Linked DNA regions of Homo sapiens: region 2 is linked to region 1. The links come from fine-mapping of genetic effects on gene expression. A gene starts in region 1. The other region holds a variant in brackets. All regions are shown on one strand. Distances are from middle to middle. Region 1 holds the start of RNPC3 (RNA binding region (RNP1, RRM) containing 3). Region 2 holds the start of AMY2B (amylase alpha 2B).

The links.
Region 2: its variant is fine-mapped to the expression of RNPC3 in skeletal muscle (GTEx, PIP above 0.99). The same link has a PIP of 0.9 or more in subcutaneous fat.

What each region holds. Positions count from the first base shown.
Region 1 is chr1:103,515,353-103,532,166 of GRCh38, forward strand. RNPC3 (RNA binding region (RNP1, RRM) containing 3) reads left to right here and starts at 10,347. Exons shown (of 15, transcript NM_017619.4): 1 at 10,347-10,910; 2 at 12,343-12,390. The coding sequence starts at 10,719. RNPC3-DT (RNPC3 divergent transcript) reads right to left here and starts at 10,156. Exons shown (of 4, transcript NR_168321.1): 1 at 10,044-10,156. It also overlaps the pseudogene RN7SKP285. RefSeq lists a silencer at 10,139-10,238 and an enhancer at 10,559-10,798.
Region 2 is chr1:103,555,562-103,572,375 of GRCh38, forward strand. AMY2B (amylase alpha 2B) reads left to right here and starts at 16,028. Exons shown (of 10, transcript NM_001387437.1): 1 at 16,028-16,209; 2 at 16,549-16,695. The coding sequence starts at 16,042. It also overlaps the pseudogene ACTG1P4. RefSeq lists a silencer at 1,929-2,147. The variant A/G (reference allele first, on the strand shown) is at 10,699.

The DNA.
Region 1 (16,814 bases):
ATGTTAAAATAACAAATATAACAACTTCTACAGCACTCTGTGCCACATTAATTAATGTAATACTCATAAGCCTATGAGATATACATATCATTATCTCTATTATATATTTGAACATTGAAAAAGACAGATTAAGTAACTTCTCCTAGGTCACATAACAGAGCAGGTATATAAATCTCAGATATTTTGCCTCTCAAGTCTATGATTTAGCCACTTCTGAATATAAAACTAAAAGTGTAATAGTGTGGCAAACACAAGCAAGGTAAATACATGATTGGAAAACTTTCATTCATTCATTTATTCATCTGTTTATTCACTCATTCAACAACTACTTATTGCATACCTATAACGTGCCAGGTACTACTTTTGGCAGGTGAACAAAGTAGCAAACATGACAAAAACTCTTACCTCATAGAGCTTCTAACAAACAAATGCACGTGCACACACACACACACATTAGTATATATTTTGGGGCTGTTATTTTACAAGAAATTAATAAGGCAAGGTTAAGTTATTAGTGTTGGTTAGGTGAGGAGAAATGCTATTTCCAGAGATGGCATGAAAGTCCTCTCTGAGGAAAGCACATCTGAATAAAAACTGAGTAAACATGAGGGATATGAGCATCTGGAAGAGGAATGTTAGAGAGATAAAGGACATTTGAAAAGATTCGGTTTTTTATTTTATACCCCCACTCCCACTGCTGCAAGAATGACTAATGGGGGGTGCTCATGAAGCAGAGAAGTAGGACATAAGATGATAGAAGTACCAAGAAGGGCTTTATATGACAAGAGAAAGACTGTAGGTCTTATTCCAACTGTGATGGGAAGCCAATAAAAGGTTGCAAACAGGAAAGTAATCTGATGTAATTTATGTTTTTAAAAATCACATGAGTTAGTGTGAGGAAAATACACTGTAGAGTGCCTAGAATAGAAGCGAGGAAACTAATCAAGAGGCTATTGGAACATTCCAGGTAAGAGAAAATGATGAAGACATATGATGAAATCTAAAAGTCAACCAAATCACATTTTCCAATAATTATAATAAAAGGGAAATTGTATGTGTCATAACAAGCCAAAGAGTTTTCTGAAAATCAAATGAAAGGTCACATTTAGATGAGAATCAAGAAAATCATTAGGGGTGTGGCCTATGCAGCATATTTGAGTATAGAAAGACAAAAATATGTGGGTGTCTTTAAGAAAGTATAGTTTAGCTTCCATGTAGCATAAGGTGAATGTAAGGGTGAAACATAAAGAGTCAACTAAATGGAGGGACTTAAAGGATTCCGGAGATAAAAATTAGGCTCTGCTTTATTTTATTTCTTTTCTCTACTTTCTTAAGCAGCTTTCAGCCCTATAACAACTCAGTTACATACTGGTTTTCATCTACTGTGATATATGTCTTTTTAATACCTTTGAGAGTGTTGGGCACAGAAAATGTTATTCAGGCATGACTAATAAATTGCTCAAAGACCACCAGACTATGACACATCTATGGTCTGACAAAGGTAAGTTTATCATTTTGCAGCAGTAAAAAAAGACTACACAATTGATGGGGCATTTTGCCAAAACAGATGAAGGAAGAGCCAGCATTCTGATTCATTTAAGAGTAAGGTGGGGTTTAAATAAAATTTAAATGAACAGTTCTTTGATAGGCTGAAAGAATAGCCTGGCTGTATTAGCATAAAGCCTGGACTAAGAAGTGGGTATAGGGTTCTGTTTCCTTGAAATCTACAAAGTTAAGATGACTGTGGAATCTTGTATCTGAAAAACATTATCTGAAGCTTTGCACCTGGGTGGAAAATTGAGGCTGCTTCTCTGTGTCAAAGTACCCACATAGCTTAGCTCTTCAGGCAATAGTGGGGTGTTCCTGTCTCACTAACATAATTTCAAAAAGCAAAATTTCTGACAGTTTGTAATTTTTACAGAACAAAGTTTTTCAATGCTGTCACTGGAGTTAATTGACAAAAGAAATCATTTCATACTTTTACACCACTATAGCTTTTAGTATATTTTATTAAAGTTTAATTTTAATACCTTGGTTTTGATATGAGTCAGGAGCATCCCTCTCTTGTGACTGAATAAGGGGGAGATCAGAGGTACTTAGAGAGTTAAGTGAGGGAAAAATTGTCATTTTGTTCAGGCCACTTGTAAGTTAGTCCTAAGAAGTTTGAGATTTCCTGGAAAATAATTGACATCTAGACCAGCAAATCACTGTAGGTGGTAGCTGGACTCTATGTGTATAGGGCCATACCCAAGAGGTTTATCTGTTGGGGTGAATGACTCAGAGGGGTTAGAGGCAGGAACTGAAGAAGAATCGTAAGAGGTCAACCAGCAAGTATATTACTGATATCATGAGACTATATGGCATAAATGCTGCAGGGCCCTCAAAAGGACAACTAAGGTGACCCATATATTTGGTTGCCTGCCTTGATAGGACATCAACAGCAAAGAGAGAACTACTTTTCCCAGTGGATTCTAAAGCAGAAAGAAAAAGAGATGAAGAAAATGAAAGAAAAGACTACGTCACCTTCCCCACCATAGGTTCCCTGAGCTTAGAGAAGGGTGTATATTTAGAAGTGAGATTAGTATTAAAAACTGAACTGAAAGTGAATCTTAATTATAAATAATAGATTGTTTTTAAAATCAAAATAAATAGGAATGCTAAGGGTGACTGCAGAGAAGGGAGATCCAATAAAGCATGTTGAAATTGTAAAATAGTTTGTTTTGTTTTCTGATTTTCTTTTGGTAGCCCCATTAGGTCCAGCTAATTCAACCTTTCAGCATCTGTATGTAGATGCTTTTATTTCTATAAGATAGATTTGAAAAGCAGAATTACTGGATCAAAAAGTATGGTAACATTTATCCAAATAAATATGAAGATTTACTTTTCTAAATGCCTGTGACAAACATTTGCCCTCATGCACACACCTACATTAAATTTTATAGCTATGTATAATGTTTTCCAGTTTGAGAACTGAGAATTGGTATATTCTTGTGGGGTCTAATTGGCATTCCCATTACCAATAGTAAGGTTAAACACCTTTCCATATGTTAATGGGCCATTCAGGTTTCCTTTTTGTAAAATCACCTGTTTATATTCTTTAAACACATTTTTCTATTAATTTGTCTTTCTTTTTCCAATTTTTTGGTACCAGCTGTATTTTCTGACGTTTTTACGTAAGAGAAGATAATCTAGCATTGTCACATTACAGAAAAACAACTACTTATGACAGTACCATTTATCAGGTGAAACATTTTCTCTAGGCATCTTCTGAAATGTTTAGTACATTTTAATTTTTTGATTGACTAATGTATTAGTCTGTTTTCATGCTGCTGATAAAGACATACCTGATACTGGGAAGAAAAAGAGGTTTAATGGACTTACAGTTCCACATAGCTGGGGAGGCTCCACAATCATAGTGGAAAGCAAGGAGCAGGTCACATCTTACATGAATAGCAGTAGCCAAAGCGAGAGTGCTAGTGCAGGGAAACTTTTTTAAAAACCATCAGATCTCATGAGACTTATTCACTATCACAAGAACAGCATGGGAAAGACTCGCCTCCATGATTCCTTTACCTCCCACCGGGTTCCTCTCACAAAATGTGGGAATTGTGGGAGTTACAATTCAAGATGAGATTTGGGTGAGGACACAGACAAACCATATCAACTAATACTTAAATGTATAGGTTTATATTAAGAAAAATAGCCTTCCAGGTTGCATACATTAAAAAAAATGTGCCATCCAAATGGATTCCAAATTGTAAATGGAGTTAAGAAAGTATTTTAGAACAGGAATATTTTTCGGGTGCTATTTCCCTATCTTCTCTAGATTCCATCCCAGAACAGAAGACATAAGCAAGCTATACCCCATAAGAAAAGGCTAATTACCCCTGCAATAGCCAAAAGTTCACATAAATCCTGCCTCTGTTCATTTGTTATTTAAAGGCAGAGACTAAGTCTACAAATAACTATGTGTGAGATCCACACATAATCTAATCTATCAATAAATAACAAAAATAATATTGACATTTTAACTTTCTGATCATTTTGCATAGAAATCTTTAGACAGGTTTCCTAAAGTCATCATGCAAACCACTGAATATGTAATCCCTGGTTGTCAGCAGTGTTTTTTATTTTCTTGATAATAACATTAATTTATTCACTGATAAATGTTTTAAAACATATGTCAAATATTCACTAATATATATTTTAACATTCAATGATCATTAATCTATTTGTAAGGTACTATGTTAATGCTTGGAAGATATACAGACGAATATAGAAATTCCTGTCTTCAAGGAGCTTATTAGTAATAATGAAATTATGTACATAATTATTTATAATAAAATATATTTATGATAATTTTATAACAGAGGTGAAAAGTTCTACAATAACAAATGGGATGAAGACATGAATTCTACCTTGGGAAAAAAGAAAAGACTTTGATGATGTTTGTTTTAAGTTACTAAGTAATTGGATGGCTTATTACACAGTGACAACCAAAACACTGAAAAATCTAGTGTTCAGGTTTTTTGTTGTTGTTGTTGTTATTGTTGTTTTTGTTTCCTTTGCCAGTATGGGAAGAGAATAGAGGAGGCAGAGATGGTGTTGACTGACAATGAAGAATTTAATGAGAAAGTCATATGTAAGCATCTGAAGAAAGTCAGGGAGCTAAGCATGCAGATATCTGTAGGAACAGCATCCCTGAAAGAGAGAATGGTAAAGGCAAAGGTCTTAGTTATGGGTCTGAAGTGTTCAAGCACAGCCAGAAGGTCAGTGTATTTATAGCAGAGGGAAAGAAGAGGGGAAGAATAGATGAAGTCATAAAAATAATATACTGGAGGAGTTAGATCATGTAAATTCTCACAGATCAAAATAACTTCAGCATTTACTCTAAGTGAGGGGGAAAGCTACTGCAGAGTTTTGAAGATTTAACAGAATCACTCTAGCTGCTGTGATAAAAATATATTGAAGAAGCAATATATTTTTAATCATGTTAAAATGGACTTTTCATGGTAAAAACTAGTCCTAAGCTATCAATACCTTTAAGAGAAAAAAGTTATTTACTACTTATGCAAAGTTTGGTGGGAGGGAAGTTATTCTGTAGGGGAGCTGTCATTGATGTGGTGAGTTGGTACTCTAGGCTATGTTTAGCTTGAGGTTCTATCACCTCAATATGTGGCCTACATGATCACTGTTTTCATACCCAATCTTCCATGCAATACTCTGGAATTGACACATGTTGCTTTCATTAACACCCCATCTACCAAAATGAATCACATAGTCCCAACTAACAACAAGAGAGTTGGGAAATGGAAAGGAATATATGAAATAATTGTTGAGTCTTACTGTGTCGTCCAGACAGAAAGGGCAAAAGTAGGAGACTAGCCATGAGGCTATGACAATATTCCAGATAGATCATGGCTGCTTGGACAAGGATGGTAGAAACAGTGGGAACAGTGAAAAATAGTCAAATTTTGAATATAATTTGAAGGTAAGATAAAGGGAATTTGCTGAATGTCAAGGCATGAGATATAAAAGATATAAAGGAGTCACAGGTAACTGAGATGGGAAAAACTGAAAGAAAAGTTTTGAATACTATCAAGAGCTCAGTTTTAGGCCTGTTAGTTTTGAGATGCTTATTACACAACATTGAGAAAATGTCAAGTAAGCAGTTCAATATATGGATTGGGAGTTTAGAGAAGAGGTTCAGGCTGAAGATATGATTTGGTAGTCATCAATGTGTGGTTCTTAAAGCCATAAAACTGAATGAGATGACTTGTCCAGTACAAGTAGGGCAAAATGAGAAAAGATTGAGCATGGGAAACTCCAGCCTTTGGAGGTCAAGGAGATGAAGAGCAATCAGCAAAAGAAACAAAGAGAGTGATCAGAATGATAGGAGAAAAACTTGGCAAGTTTGGTGTTCAGCAAGCCAAATGAAGGGAGTTTGGTTTATTGGTTGTTTGTAGGGTGTTTTTTGTTTGACTGTTTTTAGAGCAGAGTAAACAACTGTGTTTGGTGAGCAATGCTTATAGATCAAGTAGGATAAGATCTAAGAAATTACCACTGGATTTAGCAATGTGTAGAGGTCACTGATGACCTCGAGAAGGGCAATTTCAGAAAAACAATTGGGATACAAATCTGATTGGAATATTCTAAACAGAATATGGGAGAAGAAAATTGGAGACAACAAATATAAACCACCATTTCCAAGAGTTCTGCTATTAACAGAAAGAAATGGAATGGTAGCCAAAGAGGAAAGTGGAAAGAAGAGAGTTTTTAAAAATTATTTTATTTGCTTTTGGCTTTTTTAAACAAAAGGGTAAATAATTGCATTTGTATACACTGATGAGAAAGGCTCAGTAAAGTACATGAGAAGGCAGGAGATTTACTTCCCGAGAGAGGTTAGCTTAACCAAGACTCACAGATACAGTTAGGATTAATAGGTATGGGAATCCTCTATAACTTGGTTCACTTTTTTTCCCCAAATGAGATTAAGAAGCAAGGTCACCATCTAAGAATGAAAGTGGGAAGGATTCAAGGTGACAGGAAATAGGAGAAAGCATGGAGTCAAAGATTTACTAGAGTAAGGCAATGAGAGAAAGTGAGATCGAACAGTAGGAGAAGTGGTGTGTTTTGGAAACCAAGGGAAGATAGCGTCTCAACGAAGAAGTGGTCAAGTATGCCAAGCATTGCTGAGAAGCTAAAATGAGAACTGAAAAGGCCTATTAGATTTAGTAACTGGGAGGTAACTAGTGACCCTAAGAAGAACTACCTTGTGGACTGATGGGATCAGAAGTCAGGAGCACACTTTGGAGTGAATGGGAGATGAAGAAATAAGAATAATTATGTCTCTCTCTTTAGAAGCTTGGCTATGAAGGGTGAGGGGAATGCTTTTGGCTAGAAGCCAGGACAAATATTGGGATCAACCCTTCTCCCTATTGTAGTTCTCCAAAGCATGCCAGAGATAGGACCCAGCAGTTTTCCTGTCTTCATGCGGAAAAATGGGGAGTTTGGGGGTAAAAGGGAAGATGTAATAGGGAAGTACAAGTAGCCATGTGGTCAAGTGAGGAAAACTAGGGACATAAACCAAAGGAAGCAAAAAAGGTAATTCTGTCTGAGAAGGTACTCAGTAACATGGAGGAACTGATGAAGATGAAAATTAACCCAAGAAAACCACCACATTAGCGGGGACCTCCATCAACACACAAAACCCCTGAGAATAAGAATGAGATAAAGAACCAACAATTGCTCAGTGAAGTCAGACACTCCCAAGCTCCACTACTTTTCCCGCCTCCCATTCCCCAACATAGAAAATCAAGACTGAAAATGAGTTAAATTCACAGTTCTCAAACTGTGCTAAGGTGCCCCAGGTACCCTTGCCACCTTATAGAGGTACTATAGGATATTTTAAATATTTGAGGGAAACATAGCAATACTCACTGTTTACCAGACACTACCTGAACTACCAGCTTGAGATGTTTCTCAATTTGAACATTAGATACTGTTTAATTCCTTTTAAGAATGTCATATATTTGAAAAGCTGGGTTTTTGGCTGTTGCTCTCATATAAAACAAGTGCTTCCTGGAAAACCAGAGTGGAATAGGAAATAAGGTGGCATCAAGGGGTGCTAGAAAAAACTGCTGGGACAATAAAGCTACCAATAACTGAAAAAGTTTGGCAACTTCTGGGCTAGACAAAGAGGAGGGAATGAGAAAGGTACTTCTCAGATACGACCACACATACCTACACTCAGACACAGAAAAGATTAGAGTGTATTACATATTCCTGCAATCCTTTAGGTCAAGCCTGATATGAGGGGAGTGTAAGAAGAGACACCTTAATGGAGTTTGGACTTGACATCTCTAACCAACTGTACTGATAGCAACTGAAAGTGACTAGAAAATTATGACCTCTACCTGAGATATTGTCAAGGAAAGGATAAGGTAGATTTCATTGAGTACAACTAAAAGCAATTAAGTAGAGAGAAAATAAAATTCTGTCATGTAACTATTCCACTCAGTCATGATACCTGAATTACAGTAGATAATGACCATTAAACTCTGCCTGATAGCCCCTGTAGTAATTCCTAACCGTAGGAGGCAGTGGTAAATATAAAAGTGAATTCCTTCATGCATTCATTCATTGAATAGATATTTACAGAATGTGCACTATGTCTGGAACATTTTACTAAACATAAGAGTCACAGGGAGGATGTGACGGTCATTTTGCATGACACCTGTCACCAACTGATCCCAACAGTTGATTTGGCTGATCTGGCTAACTAGCTGGGTTCCCCTTCCTTCCTAACTGCCCCATATATGTCTCTTCCAAAGCTGCCCACTCGGCTGAGGAGGATGACTTACCCCCATAAAGGAGGATGATTTTTCTGTAAGGGCATACGTGTAGCAGTGCTCCCTTGCTAGAAGCTCCAAACAAGTCTTCAAAGAACACACACAAAAAAGCCGCTGAAGGATAGTGTTTAAAATAGCATGACCACTCCAATCGGTTTATAACACTACCCTATTTTTTCCAAAGCACTTATTATTCTCTGAAAAGAACTTTATTTACATATTTATTCTGTCTTGATTTTAGAAAGTAAGCATTGAGAGGGCAGGAATTGATTGTCTTCTTCTTCTTCCTTGCCTCAACTTCTCAACATCTGCATGTCCCATGACTCCATTATGGGCACAATTCTATCTATACCCTTTGTCATTCTTCAGATATAAATACCATATAGGTTGATGCCATACCTCGTGGTAACCTTTCCCAAGAATGCCAAACACACACATTCAACTTCCTACTTGAAACAGGGATACTGAATAGATACCTTAAACTTAATATATGTTCCTCTATTCCCAATGTCCCACTACAGTTTCTAACCTAGCTATACTTGGTCAATCTTCTCACATTCAGTAAATGGCATCATCATCTACAGATGGATAATATCTAGCTTAAGCCAAAAATCCAGAATTTATCCTTGCTTACTATTCTTCATCTGCAAGTTCCTATCAACTACTTCTAAAACGTATCTCAATTCCAGTTCCTTCTCTACATGTCCACTTTCACCAAACTATTATGGTAGTGTTTTTCTCCAGACTTCTACAGTAGTCCAACTGGTCTTTCTGCTTCTGTTTTTTGCATTGCAACCGGAGAAATTTTCATACCTAAACTTTGATTCTCTCCCCTCAACACACACCTACTTAAAGAATTTGTCAGTTTCTAAATGTTCCTCAAATAAAAAGGGCTCCTAACAAATCTACAGCGTCTACGTGGTCTGGCTCTACCTATCTGATATTTTGGTGGGTGTGTGGGGAAGGTTCTTCTCATGTTTGTCTTCTAGTTTTCATTAATATCTGTCTCTCTCCTTTTCCCCAACCAATGCGGGATGACAGCAGATTGCTGGTATACTGCTTACTGCTGTATCTCTAACATTTATTTAAGTGGCAAAAAGAACTGTAAGAGGAACTCTGGTTCTCCAGACTGTAGCAGCTACATCTAGCATAAAACCTCTCTTTAGAATCCTCAAGGCCCTCTCTGTATGGGGTGAGGGGTACATTCCTGACCCTCCGGGGATGATCCCTGCCTCACTCCATTCAGAATCTAGGCAGAACAGTGGATTAGAATGTAGACCCCCAGTCAGAACACCAAGGGTCAAAACTTAGTTCTTCCACTTTCTAGCTGTGTGATTTAACCTCTTTGTACATCAGTGTCCTCAGCTGTAAAATAGGGAGAAAAGTACCTACACCTACACACACACACACATACACACACACACACACACACACCCCTACACACACACACATACACACACATGCAATAATTTATTTATTAGGTTACCTCTCCCTAGAGGCTGCCATTTCTGCGAAATGAACCCTGGCAGGGGCCTATCCGTCTGCTAAATGCCTACTGATTCAAGAAAAAAGTCTGAACTCTCAACGTTTTGCCCCTTAAACTGAGTTCTCCTCCCTACAATGGTGTCTAATGAGTTGACAGAATAACTGGCTAGCTTTATATTTTACCATCTAAATACTGTAAGAACATACCCGGTATTTCCACACCCAAGTTCTCCTCCTTGCTATTCAGGCCAATTCACTTTCCCAAGGCCAGGGATTAAGAGCCGCACGGTCAGCTCCAGATAGCGCTCGCCGCCGTGCGCCCCGCCCCGCCGTGCGCCCCGCCCCGCCGTGCGCCCCGCCCCGCCGTGCGCCCCGCCCCGCCGTGCGCCCCGCCCCGCCGTGCGCCCCGCCCCGCCGTGCGCCCCGCCCCGCCGTGCGCCCCGCCCCGCCGTGCGCCCCGCCCCGCCGTGCGCCCCGCCCCGCCCTGTGACGGTCCCAGCCCGCACATGCGCAGTCGTGAGTCCTCTTGTCCTTGAGCGTCAACCTTCTTTCCCTGAAGTGGCTGGGGTTCCTGTTTCCTTCTTTGATTGACAACTTGTGTTAACCCTCGCACATCTCTGGGCCAATTTTTGCTTGTAAGTCTTTCCGGAGACCCCTGGAATTTAAATCATTAGCACCGCGCCCTTCCCCGAAGAGTCTTCGAAGGGTTGCCGCTTTTCGGTGGCGCAGTTCTCGCGAGAAGGTGACTTTCTTTCTCGGTATTTCCTGGTTTCCAGAATCCTTAGCGCGAGGCGGAAAAAATATTTCTCCCAGCTTGTGTTGATGCCGCGATTTTGACTGAGACTTCTTCCCACGATTTCTGTTTTTGCTTCTCCAAGGAAAATGGCAGCTCCCGAGCAGCCGCTTGCGATATCAAGGGGATGCACGAGCTCCTCCTCGCTTTCCCCGCCTCGGGGCGACCGAACCCTTCTGGTCAGGCACCTGCCGGCTGAGCTTACTGCTGAGGAGAAAGAGGACTTGCTGAAGTACTTCGGGGCTCAGTCTGTGCGGGTCCTGTCAGATAAGGGGCGACTGGTAAGGGCGCGCCCCTCCGGAGTCTCCCGGGAAGGCATTTGGGAAGTGACCGGGGAGGGGGAGCGCTGACAAGAGTAAAATGGAAACGAGTGGGGAAGATGGACTTGTGTGATGAGAGCTCCCCCATCCTACCTCTTTTTTATCAAAATATCTGCTCTGCGAAGTGGAGTTTTAATCGGCTCGAGTCTGGATTAGTCATAGCACTGCAGAAAAGGGCAAGTGAGAACGACAAAGCAGAAGAATGGAAATTAGCTTAGTTATATTGAGTTTTCGGATCCATCCTGAGAGCCTCACAACTTTTTTGAATTTGGGGTTATTTCTCCTGGACTCAAGAGTATTCTTACAAATGTGCATCAAGGGATTTTTTAAAGTCCTACTTCATTTATAAGCCAATGTTAAATCGTTCATTAAAATAGAGGAGAAGCTACATTGGTGACTTGCGTAAATTAAATGCAGAATTTCAACTAGAAAAAGAGGCTTTTCATAAAAATTTCCCGATGACATCTTTTAGGGAACAATTTTTTAGGGCTGTTAAGAGTACCTGTGTAGGAATTTACACAATTACTTTGTTTTGCTTTATATCCAAAGATATTTTAGATTTCTCTTCATTAAAATAGGAATAGCGATGGTGCAAGACTCAGTGGTTTTAAAGTTTCCCTAGGTGATTTTAATGTTAATGTGCAGCCCAAGTTGAGAGTTACTGAATTAGAAGAAAGACCAATTTTGATCAGTTTAAATGTCACTTATGCCTGCAAATTAAAAAAAAAAAATTATATATGGCTCAATTTAAGTACATCAGGTCATCGTGTATCAGATTAGACAAAATTAGAATGTGCGATATAATTATTAAAGTAACTTTTAATAAGCATTGACCAGAGCTCTTCCTTAGCATAGTGATTCTTTTACTGTTGATTTGTGTTTCTTTTCTGATGGTTTTTAAAATCCGTATAATTTATGTTTAAAAATAGACTTCTCCCATTGAACATTATTACAAAGATAAAGCACAAAGGAAATATGCACCTTGAAGAACGATTTCTCTGTTGGTGAATGTTTTTAAACTACGCATTGTTATGTATAGAGGAAAGTTTAAAATCTTTAGATCTGTCATAAATGAAGGAAATAAATTTTTAGTTGGTTAAAAGTGACCCTCTGTGTAGAACAGGTCTTTAAACTTTTGGTCTTTTGAACTATTTGCATGTGTAAAACGTGTGTCTTTATATGATAGAGGTTGCATAGCTTTCATCTCAAGTCTGACTCAAAAAGTATTGAAAACCACTGGACTGAAATTAGTAATCAGTTAAATGGTCTTGAGTTTTCATCCTTTCCCGTGATTTTATTAACATGTCACATTACTCCACTGGTAAAAAGTCAGATTTCTTTGTGAGAAACTGAAATTATATTGGAAGTAATTTGTACCTTAACTCTGTTTCAGAAACATACAGCTTTTGCCACATTCCCTAATGAAAAAGCAGCTATAAAGGTATGACTTTTTCTTGACGATTAAAGTTGTCAACAGGATCCTCTTATACAATCTTGGTTCAGATAATGTTTAACTGTGGTTTTTAAGAAGCAAAAGCGTTTGTATTCCAACAGTTTCCCCAACAGACTACATTTGATTTGTCAGTTGGCAGATCTTGCCCAGTCCTTTAGTAGATTATCTATAAAGAAAAACTAACTGCGTATGTAATTAAAATAACAATTTCTAAATGATTTAGATTGATAAATATCTCTGTGACTGTTACAAGGTAAGATGTTTCAAGTGTTAAAAGGAGAATATACATTTCTTTATAATGCCAGGGAATCATTCACAGGAGGTGATCTTTTAGCTAGAAGTCTAATGATTAATTGGATTTTTTCAGAAGGAAACAAGTGGAGATGGGCCTTCTGGGCTTGCAGAACACCAAATAAAGCTGTGAGACATTGGAAGTTATAAGTGGAGCAGGAGCTAAGGGTTGAGATGGAAATGGAACTTGAAAAATAGATTTGAGTCTGGGAGAGAGGTATTGAGTTTGGTTTAGTAGGTGGACACTTGATACTTTTGAGCTGGCTCATAATATGATCAGGCCTGTTAAAGATATCTGGTATAGTTCATATCATGGATTGGATGTGCAGAATTATTAGAGGTAGGAGACCAAATGGAAGGCTGTTATAATGGCCAAGGCAAGAATAACTATCTGAAGAAGACAGTAAGAAGACAAAGGGGGAAGTAAATATATATTCAATAGAGATTGAGTTTGTAGGTTTTATAATATAGGGGTTGAGAGAGAATAGTTCAGGATATTTAGATTGAGGATTGAGTTATTTGGGTTGTTATATTAGCTGACATGAGGATCCAGAGGATGTTTGCAAAGGCATAGGATGAATTCACTTGTCATCTGTTAACTTGGAGGGGTCATTGGGCTACTTTTATGGAAATATTTAAAAATATTAATGAGAGCTGAGGCAAGGTGAAGAATGGAAAGATTCTTCAACCATGTGAATAGATATGTTTGCCCAAAGGATAATAAGCTAGGAGAGAAGAATGGGAAGGAGCAGTTAAAGTAGGAGAACTAGAAAGGAAATTATCACTGATGCAAAGAGAAGTGTGTTTTAAGAAGATGAAATCCTGTGATGATGCAAAATGAGGAATGAACACATCTATTAAAGTCTTTTTGCCATGAAACAATAGAAATGACCCAAATTCTCATCGGTAAAAGGAAGGGAAGCCTTAAATCACATTATATCCATATACTGGACTGCAACTGTCTGAGAATGATGTCAAATGGTATGTGTTAATATGGAATGATAGCCCAGATAGAGTACATGAATAAAGTTGTGAAACATTATATATGATGTAACCTCAGATTTTTTGAAACTAATAGTATACATGTTAGCATATACACAGAAAAAATATGGCAGAACTATACACCAAAATGTTAAAAACATCTTTCTCTGAGAGTAGGATTACAGAGGGCTTTCATATTATATTAATATGTACTTTTATAATGGTAGGTAATTTTTTTTCAGAAAAAAAGTATTTTTAAAAATATATCATAATACATTGTAAATAAAGTATGGTAATGAAAAACGCATTGTTTTAGGGTCAAGAATAACTTGGAGGAGAGGACATGGAGCCAGTCATTGTCTTTGGAAATGTCTGTAGTGAAAGGAAGCAGTAAGAGGTTAACGGCAATATTGATAGGGCTTTTAGGCTAGAGAGCATTTGGCCTAATTGGAAAGTGATAGATTAAGAAAACAAAGGGAGAAATGTTCAAGAATAGAGTAAGTAGCCGAGTCAGGTAGGAGGAGTTAACATTAAAAATGAAAAACCATAAATCTTTGAAAATAAGAACATATGTGATACCCATTTGAGAAGAAGAAAGTTGGAGTAAGTCAGGTTAGATGACCTTCATTTCAGATAATCAAGGCTTCACTGATAATAAAGAGGTCTAAAGTTCATTTAGGGTCTTGAAAATTATTGAAACATTTTAAAATTAACTTTGTATGATGATGTAAGGCAGGGATCCTCAAACCCTGGGACACAGACTGGTACCCAGCCACGGCCTGGTACCTAACCACCACCTGTTAGAACCTGGGCCGCACAGCAGGAGGTGACTGGCAGGCTGAGGAAGCTTTATCTCTATTCAGGGCGACTCCGCCTGGCTGCCTGAGCTCCACCTCCAGTCAGATCAGCAGTGCCTTGGCCCCTGTTGTGAACTGCACATGCAAGGGATCTAGGTTGCGCTCTCAATGAGAATCTGACTAATGCCTTATGATCCGAGATGAATCAGTTTCATCTCGAAACCATCTTCTCCCCACCCCCCACCCCAGCCTGTGGAAAAATTGTCTTGCACAAAACCGGTCTCTGGTTAAGGCTTGTACTTTCATGTGTTCAAAAATATTAAGTACCTACTATGTGCTAGATGCTGATTTAGGTTTTGGGATTATATGTGAAGACAAAGATGATTATAGTTCATATTCTCAAAAGGGGAGACAGACAATAAATAATAAACTTTAATATTTTAGAAGATGATAAATGCTATGGAAAAAGGACAAGTAGAGCAATAAGATCAGGAGTGCTAAGTGGGGAGAGGTCAGGCTGTAGTTAGGGTTATATTTGAACAACAATTTGAAGGATGCGAAGGGAGTTAGCTAATGAAATTTCTGGGAGAAGTACCTTTGAATTAGAGGAACAGCTGGAACAGGGGCTCTAGGATGTGACCATGCCTGTCACGTTGTTCAAGGAAGCCACTGTGACTGGAGCAGACATAGTGGGAGTGATCTGTGGGAGCAGGAGTGGGAGTGATCATTGGATTTGAAGTCAGAGAAGTCATAGAATCTATATTATGTAGATTATAGTAAGGAACTTAGATTGCTGTCAGTAAAATAGGGAGCCATTGGAGCAAGGGGGTGACCTTGGTATTTCAAAGAATTGCTTTTGCTGTTGTGACTAGACTGAAGGGAGGGAAAGGTAGAAACAGGGAAATCCGTTAAAATATTGTGGTAATTCAGTCCAGAATTGATGGTTGCCTTGACCACAATGGTAGTGGTTAGCGGTGATTAGATTCTTTATATATTTTGAAGGTAGAAGCAAGGATTTCTTACTGTATTTATTCCAGTAGGTTTTGGGGGAACAGGTGGTGTTTAGTTACATGAATAAGTTCTTTAGTCGTGATTTCTGAGATTTTGATGTACCTGTCACCCAAGCAATATACACTGTGCCCATTGTGAAGTCTTTTATCCCTCACCCCCACTCCCAACACTTTCTCCTGAGTCCTCAAAGTCCATTGTATCATTCTTATGCCTTTGGGTCCTCATAGCTTAGCTCCTACTTAGGAGTGAGAACATACGATGTTTGGTTTTTGATTCCTGAGTTACTTCACTTAGAATAATGGTCTCCCATTCCATCTAGGTTGCTGCAAATGCCATTATTTTGTTCCTTTTTATGACTGAGTAGTATTCCATGTTATATATATATATACCATAATTTCTTTATCCACTCATTGATTGATGGGCATTTGGGCTGGTTCCGTATTTTTGCAATTGCAAATTGTGCTGCTATAAACGTGCATGTGCAACTGTCTTTTTTGTATAATGACTTATTGTCCTCTGGGTAGATACTCAGTAGTGGGATTGCTGGATGAAATGGTAGGTCTACTTTTAGTTCTTTAAGGAATCTCCACACTATTTTTCATACTTACTGTACTAGTTTACATTACCACCAGCAGTGTGAAAGTCACTTTCACCACATATTCTGCCAACATCTATTATGTTTTGATTTTTTCATTATGACCATTATTGCAGGAGTAAGGAGGTATTGCCTCATGATTTTGGTTTGCATTTCCATGATCATTAGTGATGTTGAGCAGTTTTTCATGTTTGTTGGCCATTTGTGTATCTTATTTTGAGAATTGTCTATTCATGTCCTTAGCCCATGGGATTGTTTTTTTTCTTGCTGATTTGTTTGGATTCCTTGTAGATTCTGGACATTAGTGGTTTTTTTGGATGTATAGATTGCAAATATTTTCTCCCGCTATGGGTTGTCTGTTTGTTGATTGTTTCTTTTGCTGTGCAGAAGCTTTTTAGTTTAATTAAGTCCCATCTATTTATCTTTGTTTTTGTTGCATTTGCTTTTGGGTTCTTGGTCATGACGTCTTTGCCTAAGCCAATGTCTAGAAGGGTTTTTCTGATGTTATCTTCTAGAATTTTTATGGTTTCAGGTCTTAGATTTAAGTCCTTGATCCATCTTGAGTTGATTTTTGTATAAGGTGAGAGATGAGGATCCAGTTTCATTCTTCTACATGCGACTTGCCAATTATCCCAGCACCATTTGTTGAATAAGGTGTCTTTTCCCTACTTTATGTTTTTGTTTGCTTTCTGGAAGATCAGTTTCCTGTAAGTATTTGGGTTTATTTCTGTGTTCTC
Region 2 (16,814 bases), 40 kb after region 1:
CACTCAAAGGTGAAAATATTTCCCACATAAAATTATTCTGTTCCTTTAATGAAATGAGTTTCAGCTGTATATACGTAGGAAAACATTCTTTTTTGTCAACTTGACGTTGACAAACTTGGTGGATGTCAGGAGTAAGGGTATTCAAGAGAATTTTGAAGAAGAATTTAATATAGTGAGTATCGAAGACAACTCTTAAAGAGTCTTGCGTTCAAGGGGTTGTGAGAAATGGGTTGTTAATGGAGGGCAATGTAGTATCAAAAAGCTGTTTAAGATTGATGATATAGCAGGTTTGTATGCTAATCAGACTGATTCAGTAGAGAGAAAAAACATAATGCCGGAAAGAGAGGGATATTGCTGAAGCCATAGACCTGGTATACAAATAGAAGGGTTCGTTTTAAAGATAGGCACACAAACAGCTCATTAGTAACGGTAGGATGAAGGGCAGATTATGGAGTTCTAGATGTCGGTAGTTCAGTAAATAGGAGCATGTCAAATTTTTGTTATATTTTCTCAGAGAAATAGGAAACAAGGTCATAAAGAGGGAGGAAGTCATGAAGGATTAAGGAAGGAAAAGGAGATGTAAAATGGGTATCCAGGAATGTAGGAAAGTAAACATACTCTTAGGCAATCTGTGGTTTATTTAAGTGGTATCAGTCAATGTGGTTTTGTGTTTTTCTCCAGTTGAGTTCAGCATAGGTGCTATCACTGAAAAAGTACAGAATTCAATTTAACTAAAGTTGAGATTTCCCTAGGTGAATAAGACAGTGATGAGATGTTGTTACATTTAAGAGAAAGATAATAAAAGAGAGATATGGAAAGTAATCTGGGTTAAGGAGTGAAGTGAGAAAATAAAGAAGGTTGAGACAGTGGAAAATGGTATCATCAATTGTAGATTGCAGTGTGGTTGAAGATGCATTGGAGTTCTTGAGGTACAAACTAGAAATTTGGGAGATTTAAATAAGAGTGGGGTGGCTGAAATTGAAATTAGAGTATAATAATATATAATAGTACTAAGTATAGTATACTAAGTATAGTATAATAGTACTAAGTATAGTATACTAAGTATAGTATAATAGTACTAAGTATATAGTACTTAGTGATTATAAGTTTTAGGATGTGAGGATGGGAGTAGCATAGAGGCAAGGTGATGGAAGGAGATGAATTCAAGAAATTGGGAACCTAGGAGATTGAAAGCATTATCTAAATGAATTTTGAAATCTCAACAAGAACTGTGCTGAGTGCTTTTTGTAATTATTTTATCTTTACTACCCTGTGAGAAGACAGCACTTCCTTTTGTGAGTAATGGAAAGCTCTTTAATGTGTCAACTGTAAGATACTTTATTACATTTAATTATCTTTAGTAATTCATGCTAACAAATAATGACCTCAGTAGGATTATTCAGTAGATATGTGAGCTAACCCCCTGTGTCAGACACCTAAGAGATACAACTGATGATTTTCAAGAAGAATAGAGTTCTCATCCCAAGTACTTAAGCTGCAAAATGTCCCACCCTATATTTTCTGAAAACAAACGGTATATAGAGCGTCCATTTAAAAGCTAATAGGAAATCTTAAAGCGTGCGCGCGCGCACACACACACACACACACACATACATACATACATACATACACACAAAACATTGAATAAGCATCAGGAAATATATACCCTGTACCCAACATGCACAAGGTCTAAGCAATGAAGAAAAAGCCAGGATATCAAGTAAGACTGGAACATCTGTGACTAATATATAAAGACTTGAGGTGGTTGTATCTATTTAAAAGGTTATCAATTAGAAATTAAGAAAGAGGCCAGGTGCAGTGGCTCACGGCTGTAATCCCAGCACTTTGGGAGGCCAACGCAGGTGGATCAACGTGAGGTCAGGATTTTGAGACCAGCCTGGCCAACACGATGAGACCTCGTCTCTACTAAAAATACAAAAAAAATTGCTGGGCATGGTGGCTCATGCCTGTGGTCCCAGCTACTCGGGAGGCTGAGGCAGGAGAATCATTTGAACCCGAAGGTGGAGGTTGCAGTGAGCCGAGATTGGGCCACTGCACTCCAGCTTCAGTGATGGAGTTAGATTAAAAAAAAAAAAAGTATTTTACATAAGAAATTTTAATTTTTTGTAAATTATAAAATAGCACTTAATATGGTATTTGTATACCGTGATCTTTGAATATCCAAAATTTAAGAAGATGTGAGCAGTTTTATGAAACTTTTCAAAGCTTAGAAAAAGGTAACTACATAAAATTCCATTATATGTTATTTATGGGAACATTAGATGAAGTAAGTCATAAAAACATGCATAGAAATGATCATACAAACTTGGAAGAAATTGAATGTCTTGCTATCGAAGGAAAGGATGGAGGTGAGAAGCTCTATATATTGTATTTTTCTTTATATATTTAAACTCGCATTTCTTATTTTTCAAATGTTCACTCCAATGAAAATTCTTTTATTTTTCCTGTTAGTTTTTATTTCTGATCTCATATATGCAATATACTATTGTTCATAAATATTAGTGATCCGCCCTGCAAATGAAATACTCCCATCCTGTTGAATTTGGGAATGTCCATGTGATTTGTTTTGGCTGTGAAATGTGAGCAGAAAGATTGTTTTACTTTGGGGAGTTCCCGATTGCTAAAGCATGTGTCAAAATGAAGTTTTTGTGACATTACAAAGGGACTAATAAGAGTGCCTTTGTTGATCCTAGTTGAACATGAGAAACTTGGTTATTGTAAGCCACTGAAAAATTTTAGTTTCTTTTATTACTGCAGAATAACCTATTCTGTCCTGATTGATACAGCCACAACATTTCCTTAAGCTCTTTGATTTTCATATTTCCATTAGGATGTAGAAAGTCAAGAGAAGAATAAATCATAGGATCAGAGAATATTAACAGTGAAAGAGACTATTGGAATGAACTTGTTCAATGGTCCAGACTTTGGGTTCTAAATAATCAGTAATATTTCAAAAAAAAGTATTAAAAGATATTTCAGTATAAAAAATGATGACATTTAACTTTGTAAACAACAACAACAAAAACCTACCATTGCTGGGCATAATTAGTCATGCTTGTAATCCCAACAACTTGGGAGGCTGAGGAGGGAGGACCACTTAAGCTCAGGAATTTGAGGCTGCAGTGAACCGTGATTGCATCTCTGCACTCCAGCCTGGGTGACATAGGGAGACCCCAACTGAAAAAAAAAAAAAAAAAGCTGTCATTAATACATTTTTCCTCTGTCTCTCTTCCCATCCTCCTTACCACTTAGTCTTTAATCTTATTAAACAAGATCTAAGGATAAGACAAGAGAAAGGATGGTTGCATCTATACTGAACATGTATTGAGTTTTTTTCGTCATTATTTTGTAAACAACATAATATAACAAGTTTTGACATGGCATTTACGTTGCATTAGTTATTATAAGTAATCTGAGATGATGTAAAAGTTACATGCAAATACTACATTGTATATAAAAGACTCGAGCAGTTGTTGCTTTAAGTATCCATGGTGGGTCCTGGAACCAATTCCTCATGGATATGGAGGGACGAGGAACCACTGTAGTTAAACAAATAATCACTTTAAAACTTAAAACCTTTTGCATGGTGAATACAGTCGTGCACCGCATATATGATGGTGGTCCAGTTAAGTTTATTATGCCATATTTTTATCGGAAGTTTCCTATGTTTAAATATATTTAGGTACACAAGTACACTGTGTTACAGTTGCCTATAATATTCAGTACAATAACATGCCTTACAGGTTTGTAGCCTAGGAGGAATAGGCTATGCCATCTACGTTTATGGAAGTCCATTCTATGACATTTGCACAGTGGCTTAATTACCTAAGGGCTTTCTCTTCAGAACATACTCCTGTCATTAAGCAATGCATGACTGTAGTTGGACAAAAAATAATAATACAGGCATACCTTTGGCACTGTCCTAATTCATACCAGCATTCATGATTACTTAGATTTACACTGGGAAGCCTTCAAAAAGCAGTGATATATTAGGAAAATATATTTGCAATACATGACAAACGATAATAACATAAGAACTGGAAACATTCAATAAGAAAAATAATAAAAGCAAAAGAAGATGGAAAAAGGAAGCAAATTTCAAGAGAAAACTCAAAAGGCCAAAAAATGTGAAATGATGTTCAGTCTTGCTAGTAATTGGGAAAAGCACAAATCATTTTTAATCTATTAGGCAAAAATCAGAGCGATAATATTTTTGGTGGGAGTGTGACAAAAGGTACTATAATATATTGCTACTAGAGAGTAAAAACTGACAGGTTTGTAAGGGCAATTTTGCATAATATGAAAATATAAAAATGTGCTTCAAGTTTCACTACGTTTAGTCTACAGAATTACCTATGTGTAAACATGTATACAGATGTTCATTATAACACTTCTTATAACAACAAAATATTTGGAAATGTTCATATTAACAAGTGCATACTATATGATCTTAGTCCAATTAGAATATTCTTTTTTATTTCAATCCTTTAAAAGACTCAACTTCTGACTGTATATAGACAATTAAAAAAATAATGTGTTCTCCGTATGTGCATTTGGTCAGGTTAATTAAAACTTGTTGAAATCTGCCTGCTCTTAATAAGGTTGTTAAAACTCTCTCATAATTGTAGATTTCCCTATTATTGTACTGTCAATATTTTTGCTTTAGTAATTTTAAACATGTTATAAGGTGAGTAAACATATATTTGTTGAATTTCTAGTCAGAGAGTCAAACATTTTTAATTATAAATGTACAACCATTTTACTGTGGTATTAATTTTGCCTTAGATCTTTGTCCAATACTAATAAAGCCTCACTGTCTTTCCTTTGGTTAGAATTTACATCATTTATTTGGTTCTAGCTTTACCTTTACCTTTTTTCTATCTGTTTTTAAAAAATCTGTCTAAAAATGCATTTAGCAGAAACATTTAATCAATTTACATTGAATTTTTTTTACCCTATACCACAGGAATTAGGCACATTTTCTGTTTTGTTAATGATTAGCACTGATTATACCCATGCATATTCTCACAGTCCAAAGTTAATGCCTATGTCCATTGCCAAAGACAATAATGTGACCTTAGAATACTTGAACACTGTTTTATTCCAGTTTGCAGTTGTTTTTATTTTTGAAATTACTTCTGTATTTTTAATCCTCCAAGACATTATTTTTGCAGAATTTTTTCTACTGTTAATCTTTTAAAAATTAATCAGATTAAGCAGAACTCAGGTTTTAAAATATTTTCATATAATATTTTATTTGATTTTTCTAACAATCCAATGAAAGGGAATATAAGACTGATTAGTAGGTAAGAGCTCACTGTGGAGTTAGGCTTCTTGGCTTTGAAATTCAGTCCCAACATGTACTACAATTTGACCATTAATAAATCCCATTATTTAATTTTTTAGTGTTTTTTTCTCATTTTAAAAATGAGGATAATCATATTTCTATCATGTAGGGTACGCGTGTGTGATAAGTAAAAGTGATAATGCATAGAAATGGCACATAGTAACTATATGTTGTTAGTGGTTATTTTATTTTTATATTTATCAACAATATCTTCATTTCCTAATTGAGAACCTAGTATGAAATCCATAGACTTTAATTTTTTTCTAAGGTTCATACAGAAAAAAATGTACATGGTGAAGCATCTAGTAGATGGTGATGCATGGAGTTAATTTTTTTTTGGTTTTTTGTTTGTTTTGAGACGGAGTCTCATTCTTGTTGCCCAGGCTGGAGTGCAGTGGCGCAGTCTCGGCTCACTGCAACCTCCACCTCCTGGGTTCAAGCAATTCTCCTGCCTCTGCCTCCTAAGTAGCTGGGATTACAGGTGCCAGATACCATGCCCAGCTAATTTTTGTAGTTTTAGTAGAGACAGGGTTTTGCTATGTTGGCCAGGCTGGTCTCAAAGAGTTAAATTTTTGATTTAGTGACACTGCTTACATTCTAGTCTCATTTAACTAATTTAACCCAGCCCTATGCCAATCGGGTCTTTAAGGTTATTTTATTTTATATGGTTATTTTATTTTTAAGGTTATTTTATTAAGATTATTTTATTCCCTATATGTTTATTATCTATATATTCCCTATATATTATAAATATAAATGGTTCAGGGAAAAGAAATAGAGATTGCGAGAGGATATTGTAGAAAAAGGAAGGAAGACAGAAAGCAGACGAGATATAGTGTAGTAAGAAGAGGTGGCAGGGCAGCAAACTGAGCAGAGGAGAGAAGACAGTGGTTTGCTTAGGAAACAGGAGTGTGGTGATCAACCTGTTGTAATACTGGAGTTCAGAGAAGATTCCTTGTACAAATCTGATTTGGAGAATTGGAGTAGGACTCTAGGGCCACATATTGAAAGTAAGAGGTTATAGAAAATCTATAAGATTCTAAATTCAGCAATTTTTTTTCCAACTGAAGAAAAAGCAAAACCAGAACTGTGAGATTTTTATTTTATGATTGTAAAACACTCAACTGTGGGTTTGGGAGATTGCTGATTGAGAGAAGTTAATGTGGTAAGTTGTTTTAATGTTTTTTGAGTATTATGTAAGTCCTCCTCCAACTTTTTGTCTTGAAATAAGTGGTTTCTGTCACATGATTTGATATAGAGTTTCACAATCTATTTTCAGTTTGTTGACAAATCATGTTTCAGTGCTGTGCAGTACAAAATGTACTATTTATATTGAAAATGTGTCTTAGCCTTGGCTCAAAAGGTTTCTCTGATTTCAGAGATCTGTTAGGCAAACTTGATTATCTGTGCTTTCTTTTCTCTAACCTTTACATTGCAACTTATCCTGAGTTCAGGTTTATTTTCTTTCTTATTTTATTTTCAAAAGAAAAACAGAAAACTGTTGGGGGAAGGGCTGGTGGTTGAAGGTTTACTATTTTGAGAAAATTGTACCTAATTTATTGCAAAACTCAGAGGAATTAAGACTTTATTTTTTAGTAAGAGAAACAACTAACTTGATCAAGTTCATAAATGTGACATTAAGGTATTTCAGTTGTAATTTTTAATCACACTTAAATTACTTCCAAAGATATTTATAAGGCATCTAGGCTAAGAACTACGAATGACATTAATAGATAACTTGTCTTTTTTTTTTTTTTTTTTGTCAATGTTAATTCATTTGCATGTTAAAAAACTATAATATCTGGTATAAATGTGAGGCTACTTTGGATAGGGGGAAAGAACTTGTAAATAACTGATAGTTATATAAGTAGAAAGGGAGCTCTAGAAAGACAAGTTATTTGGAAGTTGCTACTTTCTGCTTAACAATAGAGCTCTTTCATTTTATTTAAGTCAAGGCTTTGGTGTGATTTAAGTAGGCTTTGAGCTAAATGATTAAATTTATGGTACTTGATGTGTCAAGAGGGATACTGAGTTTACACTAGAGCCGTTTCCCTATAATGCCATTTATATTATGGATGTCAAAATAGATACCTCATATATGATATTGATTGAAAAAATACTTTTGAGACCCTCAGAAACTGGCTAATTTTGAGTTAATTCTTGATACCGGATATATTTTATTTTTTATATGAGCCCAAATGAGAAGAGAGAATATGTTTTGACACTCCAAATATAAATCTTTAGTGACTATTGCTTTGTCGTCAGGATATTATCAAATGTCCTATTTCATATTCTTAGGGAATTCCCAAGATATGTCATTTGGCACATGATAGTAACCGTTAGAGCTTTAGAGTAAAGGGAAGTTTTCTCTTTGTAGAGCATTCTAGGAAGTACAAAATATGGGCAATAATGCCGTATATTACTAATAACTGAATAGCTTCTCTAAGGATAACTCTTTTAGAATAACTATTTCAGAAAGTAGATATAACAACTATTTTAAATCCTTATTTTTGTGTTTTTGATGCCGAAGATGCTAAGAATTGTTTGTGCAGATTTTTATTTCAGAAGACATAAATATACTTTAATTGTTTTAATGCTTCTCCTATGGGGTATATAGCTCTTCAGATTGCTTGTTTGAGGTGAAAATTAAGATCAAATGAGAAAATATATGATAATGCCTGACTCTTAGTAGAAGCTTATTATATGTGTGTCTAACTCTACCTTTCATGCAGTGCTAAATTCCCTAAATTATATCTGCAAATTATCCCTTTTTTTTTACCAACATTCCAAATGCATTGTGAAAAATGCTGATTTGCTATTACAAGAACAGAGTTCATTGATCTGGCATTGTTGAAAAGTATATTTCAAAACTACCATGGATCTGCCAGAAATCCTAAGCGAATAAGCAAGAAGAATACTGTGAGGGAAGGAAGGAAAAAATTGCAGGTAGAAAATATTGGTGATTCTTTTTCATCTCTGTCCATTCCTTTACTGGAAATGAAAATACTTCTGAGAAGTAGAAAGTATTAGAAGTTAAGAAGGGTAGAATGGGAAGACAGAATGGCCAAGTGTTAGTAGAGCGAAGGCGGAAAGACAGTATGAGTTGATAGGATTTTTAATAGGACCAGGTAAAAATATCAATACAAAAATAACATTATCAACCATATTGAGCTTTTACCATATCCATACATTGGGATAACAGCTTTATTTGCATTATTCGTTTAATCACAATAACTCTATGAGGTAAACATTACTTTTTCTAGTTAATAGATACATTTAGAGAAGTTATTTTCCAGCATCACACAGGTTATAAATGGAAAAGTCAGGATTTATAGTTTGTCTTAACTCCTAATAATTGCGTTTTCACATTTGGAACCTTGAGTCAAGCATGAAGTTCAAATGGTGCCCCTCTTCTCTGTCAACTCTTTACACCATCAGCCCTGTATCACTATCTAGTCAGTCTTCTATTTAAATTCTGATACTCACCCGTATCCAGTTAGTTTGTTGTACTCCCTGCAAATTTTCCTTCCCTATTTGCTTTTAAAAATCATCTCGGGTAATAAAACTCCCTTTGCTACTTTGAAGGCACCTCTTTATTATCTCCTTCCTACTCCCTGTACCCCATCATTTATAAAGCTTGGTGACTTCATCCAATATCTTTTTTGGTATTTTGTCAGCCCTCAAGGGTACAACTCTCCAGGCCTGATAATTCAGCCAGTGTACACTGCCCTCTGTATAGTAGTTGCTTAGGGATAGCATCTGTTCTGTTCAGTGTCTGTGTTAAATCAGTTAAGTATTTTTTGTTCCATTTCTTAGACTGTCATTGCTTTGTTGAAAACTACCAATTCTCTGCTTCTTTCTTCATATCTTTTTTTAATTGTTTTTATATACCCATTTGTTTTAAAAATGGTACCTCTAATTCAATATGTCCCCATATTCATCGGTTTCTCTAAACCAAATCTGCCTTTAGATTGCACTATCAGTCATAAAGACATTGCCATTCTAATATTCACCCAAAGTTTAAATCACAGAGTCCCCATTTGACTCTTTATATTCTCTATTCTCTTATATCTGATTAACCACCATTTTCTGTACAGTCTCCACCAAGTCTGTTATATCTCCCCTCTCTGTTTTACATAAACATTTCCCCTCTATTCCAGGGGTATATGTTCCAAGACCCCCAGCAGGTGCCTGAAACCACAGATAGTACCAAGCCTTTTGCAGTCATCTCTCCAGTATCTGTGGGGGATTGGTTCCAGGACCTCCCATGGATACCAAAATCTACAGATGCTCAAGTGCCTTATATAAAATAGCATAGTATTTGCATATAACCAATGCACATCCTCCTGTATACTTTAAATCATCTCTATATTGCTAGAGATGTAATATCTACTGTAATATAAATGCTATGCAGATAGTTACATTGTTTAGGGAATAATGACAGAAAAGTCTATATGTTCAGTACAGATGCAACTATCCTTCTTTAAAAATATGTTCTTCCACAGTTGGTTGAATCTGGCGATGTGGAACCCATGGATATGGAGGGCTGACTATATACACCATGTTTTTTCCTGGCACATCACTCAACTACTATTAGCTGGCGAGTCAACTCACGTTGTTGGAATGACTAGGGACAACTAGACTTCAAGTGATCTTTCATCCCAGGTAGGCTCACAACACAATGTATGATCTCAGAGTTCCAAGAGATCAAACTCCCTTCTGCAAACCCCAGTCAAACTTTGCTTGTGTCTTGTTTGCTGATATCCCATCGGATAAAACAAATATCAAGCTAATTCCATAGTCTTTGTAGAGAGAGACTTTATATAGGTATGGATACTGGGAAGTGTCATTCATTGGATGCCCTTTAATATAACTATCACACTTCCCTAATTTTCATTCTTACTGCTGTAATCCTAATTCAGATTTCTGTCACTGCTCTGCTTACTAATGTTCCTATCTCTTTGTTTTCTGGTCCATCTGATATAATTAAAAGTTTTTATTATTACTTTCCTGTTTAAAACAACCAAAAAACCTTCTGAGGTAAGTACTTTTTTCTTCTCCCTGATTTTGAGTGTCCCCAATATACCTTTCCAAATTTAACTGTCATGTCTCCCTCACACTTGACTTGTTTCTAAAACACTGTATTGACTTCTTGCCATTTTCCTTGCTCTTCTACATGTTTTTCTTACTTAAAAGCAATTTTACCTATCTCTTTTCATTGATGTCAAACCCATTCTTCAAGTCAATTTTATCTCCCCTTATTCCCATCTGTCAGAAAGAACTTTTCCTACCAATTAAATCCTGAAGCACTTAATCGTAACCCTCTTAAA[A/G]CTATGTTCATATCTTTCACTTTATTGTTTGTTTTTGTGTATGGACATATCCCTTCTCTAACTGAACATAACTTCTAGAACAGCTCTGTCTAATACAAATAGAATGTAAATCATATATGTAATTTAACGTATTTTACTAACTGCATTAAAAGAAACCAAAAGACACTAGGGAAATTAATATTAATGGTAAATTCTGTTTAGCCTAATGTATCACAGTATGTTATTTCAACCTGTAAACATCATAAAAATATATTTTTTTACTTTTTATTTTCACACTATCCGAGTGTGTTTTACACTTACTACTCATCTCTGTTGAAACCACATACATTTCAACTGGTTAGTAGCCAATTGTTTCTAGTGGCTACCATATTAGACATCACAACTCTAGAATTCTAGGAGAAACATTAGTGTAGTACAGAGAATGTTGACTTGCAATCAGACTTATTATCAAATCCTGTCTTTGTCACTTACCATATGAGCCTGGACAATTTACCCAGTCTGTCTGGGCCTTAGTTCCAACATGTGTACAACACTTTTGCTAGGATTAGAGTCAAGTTTATTGCACAATTTCTAATATAGAGTTCATTGATTTTTAGAAAATCAATGAGGACATAACCCATGTTATGCCAATGTTTTGCACAATACCTGGAACCTAGAGTTTTCATGTTATAGCCATTTATTGAGCACATAAGACAATGTCAATCATTTTACTAGGATTTGGAAATACTAGATATGAAGTCTAACTTCAAGAAGCTTGGTCCAGAATGACAGACAAGTAAATTGTTAATTATAATATACTTACAAAAGAAGTCAAATATAGCTTAATGTCATATAAATTAAGAAGCTTTCATACAACAGAGGAGCTAACTATGCTTGAGAATATGAGGGTAAGCTTCATAAAGTTGTGGTTTCAACTTAATGTGGAAGGAAAAGTAGTTGCTTCCACACTAAGTTGGATGTGGAAGGGGATGATATGGGAAACAAAACCACTAGGAAATTCATGAAGGTATGATATTTCATATAAAATATGAGGAACTTCTAGTTTTGCAATGAACAGAGTTCACAGGATTGGCTGGCGGAAGGACCAAAGGGCAGCATCAGGATCGACAGTGGAATAGTTAAGATCCACAGCTCTCCTGATACCCTTCGTCAAAGCTGGTACTTCCTCATTTTGTCTCATGTTAAAAAATGGTATCATCCCCAAATACCTATATCTTTAATATTTTTCCTCATCCTTCAGCTCTAATCTATTCATAAATCTACTGCCTGTTTACCTCTGAAATATACCTTGTCTATGCCCTAGTCCAAGCCACTCACCTCTTTCCTGGACCACTGTAAAAGTCTTCTAACATCTACCCCTTTCCACTCTTATCCTCCTATAATCTGGTTTCTTCCCAGAAGCAGGGTGATTTTCTTTTAAAGTTTATTAGTCTTTCAGTTCCCCATGTCACAGCCTTAACAGCTCTCTCTTTCTTCATGTTCTACAAGGTTCTACATGATCTGGCCTACCTCTCTGATCTCATCTCATTTTATCCCACCCTTTATCACATGTGCTCTAGCCACACTGATTTCTTTTTAATGTGTCTTATGTACTAGCTTTTTCCTTTCTTGGGACATTACTCTTGCTCTTTCCTCTATCTGTTGCTCTTTCTCTGATCTCTAAATGACTGGACACTTCTAATCCTTCAAATCACATCATAAAGTCACTCTTTTAAGGGATGTCTTCCCTTACCATCCAGTCTATAATACCCTGATGGAAAAGTCACTTTCTATTTTATGATTTTATACTAGTTCTTATTGCTATCTGAAATTATTTTTATCATCACTGTTAGTACTGTTGCTATTACTGTTATTTACTAATATATTTTCTTTTCTTTCCACTAGAATGTAAGTTCTCTGAGAACAGAAACCTGTCTTTTTCATAATTGTCTCCTGAACATCACCTACAGTGCTTAGCAAAAAGCAGACACACACTTAACACTTGTTGAATGGATGGATGAAGTTTTTCCTACCTGTACTATTACTCCCTTTCATAGCATTTCACTTACATTACATTAAGAAGGAAAAATTACACAAATTTATTTATTTAGCATTTTGTCAGGTACAAGAAATATTTGCCTACAGGGAGAAAACCACCACCACCACCAATCCTACTACTATATGCACTATATTAAGCACATGAGTTGATCAAGGGGAAAAAAGTTAGTTTCTCCAATTCATGGGCTTTGAGATTTTAAACGTTTTCTTAAATCATTAATGGAGAAATTTAAATAACCAAAACTTTGAATTAAGGATGGGAAACAGGGCTGATTTTAAAAATGGAAATATCACATAATATGTCTGTTTGAAATGGAAACATGACAAAAATTTGAAAATAGTTAAATATTTTGAGAATTCAGTTGGCTTCAATTGTTATTTTCTATTAGTGACGGATATCACAAACAAAAGACAGTCCTTATTTGTTATTAGGATTTATATATATACACACATATATAAAGACTATATAGACTATATATATATACACTGCATTATATATATATGGAATATATATATGTTTGTGTATATATATATGTTTGTATGTATGTGTGTGTATATATATATGTTTGTTCTCATGCTGCTATAAAGAAGTGTCCAAGACTGAGTAATATATAAAGGAAAAAGATTCAATCCACTCACAGTTCCACATGACTGAGGAAGCCTCAGGAAATGTACAATCATGGTGGAAGGGGAAGCAAACCCATCCTTCTTCACTTGATGGCAGGAAGGAGAAATTCTGAGCAAAAGGGGGAAAAGCCCCTTATGCAACCATGAGGTCTTGGGAGAACTCACTCACTATCATGAAAACATCTGTATGGGATTACCGCCCCCATGATTCAATTTCAGTTACCTCCTACCAGGTCCCTCTCATAACACATGGGGGTTATGGGAACTACATTCAAGATGAGATTTGGGTGGGGACACAGCCAAACCATACATATATACATATATACACACACGCACACACACACAGAGTCTATATATACATACACACACACACATAAGGACTGTGTAGATATGTGTGTGTTTGTGTATATATATATATAAATACAGTCCTTATGTGTTTAAATATATATTTACTGTCCTTATTTATGTGGGTTTGTGTGTGTGTGTGTGTGTGTGTGTGTGTGTGTGTGTACACTGCCAGAGGTTTAAAAAGGTTAAGATTTTATCAGTAAGAAAAAACCAGTCACCTCTGCCAGCCCATGCACCATGTTGTCCTGCCGCTCCACTGTCCCACTCCTCCACCAGTCGCAATGGAAGAAGAGATTGCCGTACTGGTGATTGACAATGGCTCCAGCATGTGCAAAGCTGGCTTTGCTGGGGACGACAACCCCCAGCCATGTTTCCTTCCATCATCGGTGCCCCCGGCACCAGGGCATGATGGTGGGCATGGGCCAGAGGGACTCCTATGTGGGCTACATGGCTGAGAGCAAGCACAGTATCCTGACCCTGAAGTACCCCCATTAAGCATGGTATCATGACCAACTGGGATGACATAGAGAAGATCTGGCATCACACCTTCTACAAGGGACTGCACATGGCCTTGGAGGAGCACCTGGTGCTGCTGACCGAGGACCCCCTGAACCTCAAGGCCAACAGAGAGAAGATGACTCAGATCATGTTTGATACCTTCAACACCCTGGCCATGTACGTGGCCATCCAGGCTAGGCTGTCCCTCTACACCTGTGGTTGCACACTGGCATTGTCATGGGCTTTGGAGATGGGGTCACCCACATGGTGCCCATCTATAAGGGCTACGCCCTCCCTGACACCATTCTGCATCTGGACCTGGCTGGCCAGGACCTGACCAACTACCTCATGAAGATCCTTACCAAGGTTGGCTATAGCTTCAGCACCACTGCCGAGCGGGAGATCAGACACTACGTCAAGGAGAAACTGTGCTATGTTGCCCTGGACTTTGAGCAGTAGATGGCCACTGCCACATCCTCCTCCTCCCTGGAGAAGAGATATGAGCTGCCTGATGGCCATGTCATCACCATCGGCAATGAGGTTGCAGTGTCCCGAGACGCTGTTCCAGCCTTCCTTCCTGGACATGGAATCTTGTGGCATCCACCCAGACCATCTTCAACTCCATCATGAAGTGTGACGTGGACATCCGCAAAGACCTGTAGGCCAACACGGTGCTATCTGGTGGCAACATGTACCCAGGCATCACCGACAGGATGCAGAAGGAGATCACCACCCGGGCACCTAGCACCATGAAGATCAAGATGATCGCATCCCCAGAGCACAAGTACTCCGTGTGGATCAGCGGCTCCATCCTGGCCTCACTGTCAGCCTTCCAGCAGATGTGGATTAGCAAGCAATAGTACAATGACTTGGCCCCCTCCATCGTCCACCGCAAATGCTTCTAAATGGACTGTGAGCAGATGGCTAGCAATTGCTTCATGGGTTAATTCAGAAGTAAAAATTTGCCCCTGGCAAATGCATACACCTCATGCTAGCCTCACCAAACTGGAATAAGCCTTAGAAAATAAGTTGTCTTTAAAGCTTGTATCTGATATCAGCACTGGATTGTAGAACTTGTTCCTGATTTTGACATTGTATTCAAGTTAACTGTTCCCCTTGGTATCTGTACATATCTTTGATTTCAGTCTTTAGTACATGTGGCTTGGTCACTTCATGGCTAAAAACGTACTTGTGGAAGACAAGTCTGGCTTGGTGAGTCTGCATGGCCAGCAGTCTCTGATCTGTGCAGGGTATTAATGTGTCAGGACTGAGTGTTCTGGGATTTGTCTACAGGCTGGTAAGGGCTCCTTAACCAGTTGTTTCTGTCCTGTCGGTCTGTCAGGGTTGGAAAGTCCAAGCCATAGGACCCAGTTTCCTTTCTTAGCTTCTGTTGTCTGCCAGAACACCATGGGCTGTTACTCGCCTTGAGTTGGAAGCGGTTTGCATTTATACCTATAAATGTATTCATCCTTTTAATTTATGTAAAGTTTTTTTGTATGCAATTCTCGATCTTTAAAGAGATGACAACAAATTTTGGTTTTCTACTGTTACGTGAGAACATTAGGCCCCAGCAATATATCATTGTGTATGGAAAAATAAAAGTGCTGCCAGAACCAAAAAAACATTAATTTCTAAAAGGTCATTTAGATGATTTCCATGAGAGACTTTTTAATGTTCTTCTCCTGTTAGGATTATTATTGATAATCCTTTTCAGATTATGAGTAAACAGTTTGCCCTCAAGTATTTATTCATGCTAATATTTACTTTGTAAAATGTGCTTCTTACAGGAATATAAATAGTTTCTGGAAAGGACACTGACAACTTCAAAGCAAAATGAAGTTCTTTCTGTTGCTTTTCACCATTGGGTTCTGCTGGGCTCAGTATTCCCCAAATACACAACAAGGACGGACATCTATTGTTCATCTGTTTGAATGGCGATGGGTTGATATTGCTCTTGAATGTGAGCGATATTTAGCTCCCAAGGGATTTGGAGGGGTTCAGGTGGGTATGATTCATAGTATCAATTGCAGAATTCACTATGCTTGTAGTAAATAGTATTCTGATCTTATCCGTGAAGCTTAGGCAACATTTTACTTCACAGGTAAGTATTCTAAGTAAGAGTTTTCTGAGGAAAAAACAATGTAGTATTCTTGGCAACTTTATATTTTGTTTCTGAGATAATCTTTCTTCAACAAGAGCCCTCCAATGTGCTGTTAATATTTTCAAGAGATAGCTGCATATACCAAGATTCAAGAATTTTTTATATTATTGATTAGTTTCTAGAACATTCAATGATATAGAGTAAGAATTTGGTAGTTATGAAGACTGTTTAATTTGTAGGTCTCTCCACCAAATGAAAATGTTGCAATTCACAACCCTTTCAGACCTTGGTGGGAAAGATACCAACCAGTTAGCTATAAATTATGCACAAGATCTGGAAATGAAGATGAATTTAGAAACATGGTGACTAGATGTAACAATGTTGGGGTAAGTGAATTCTAGTTTCCTTGAAAAATAACAGATAGGAAAATGATTTCTCTCTCTTCTTTCTTGCTCCTTTTCAGCAGAAAGTTTTCCATATTTTATTTTTTTAATTTTACTTCATA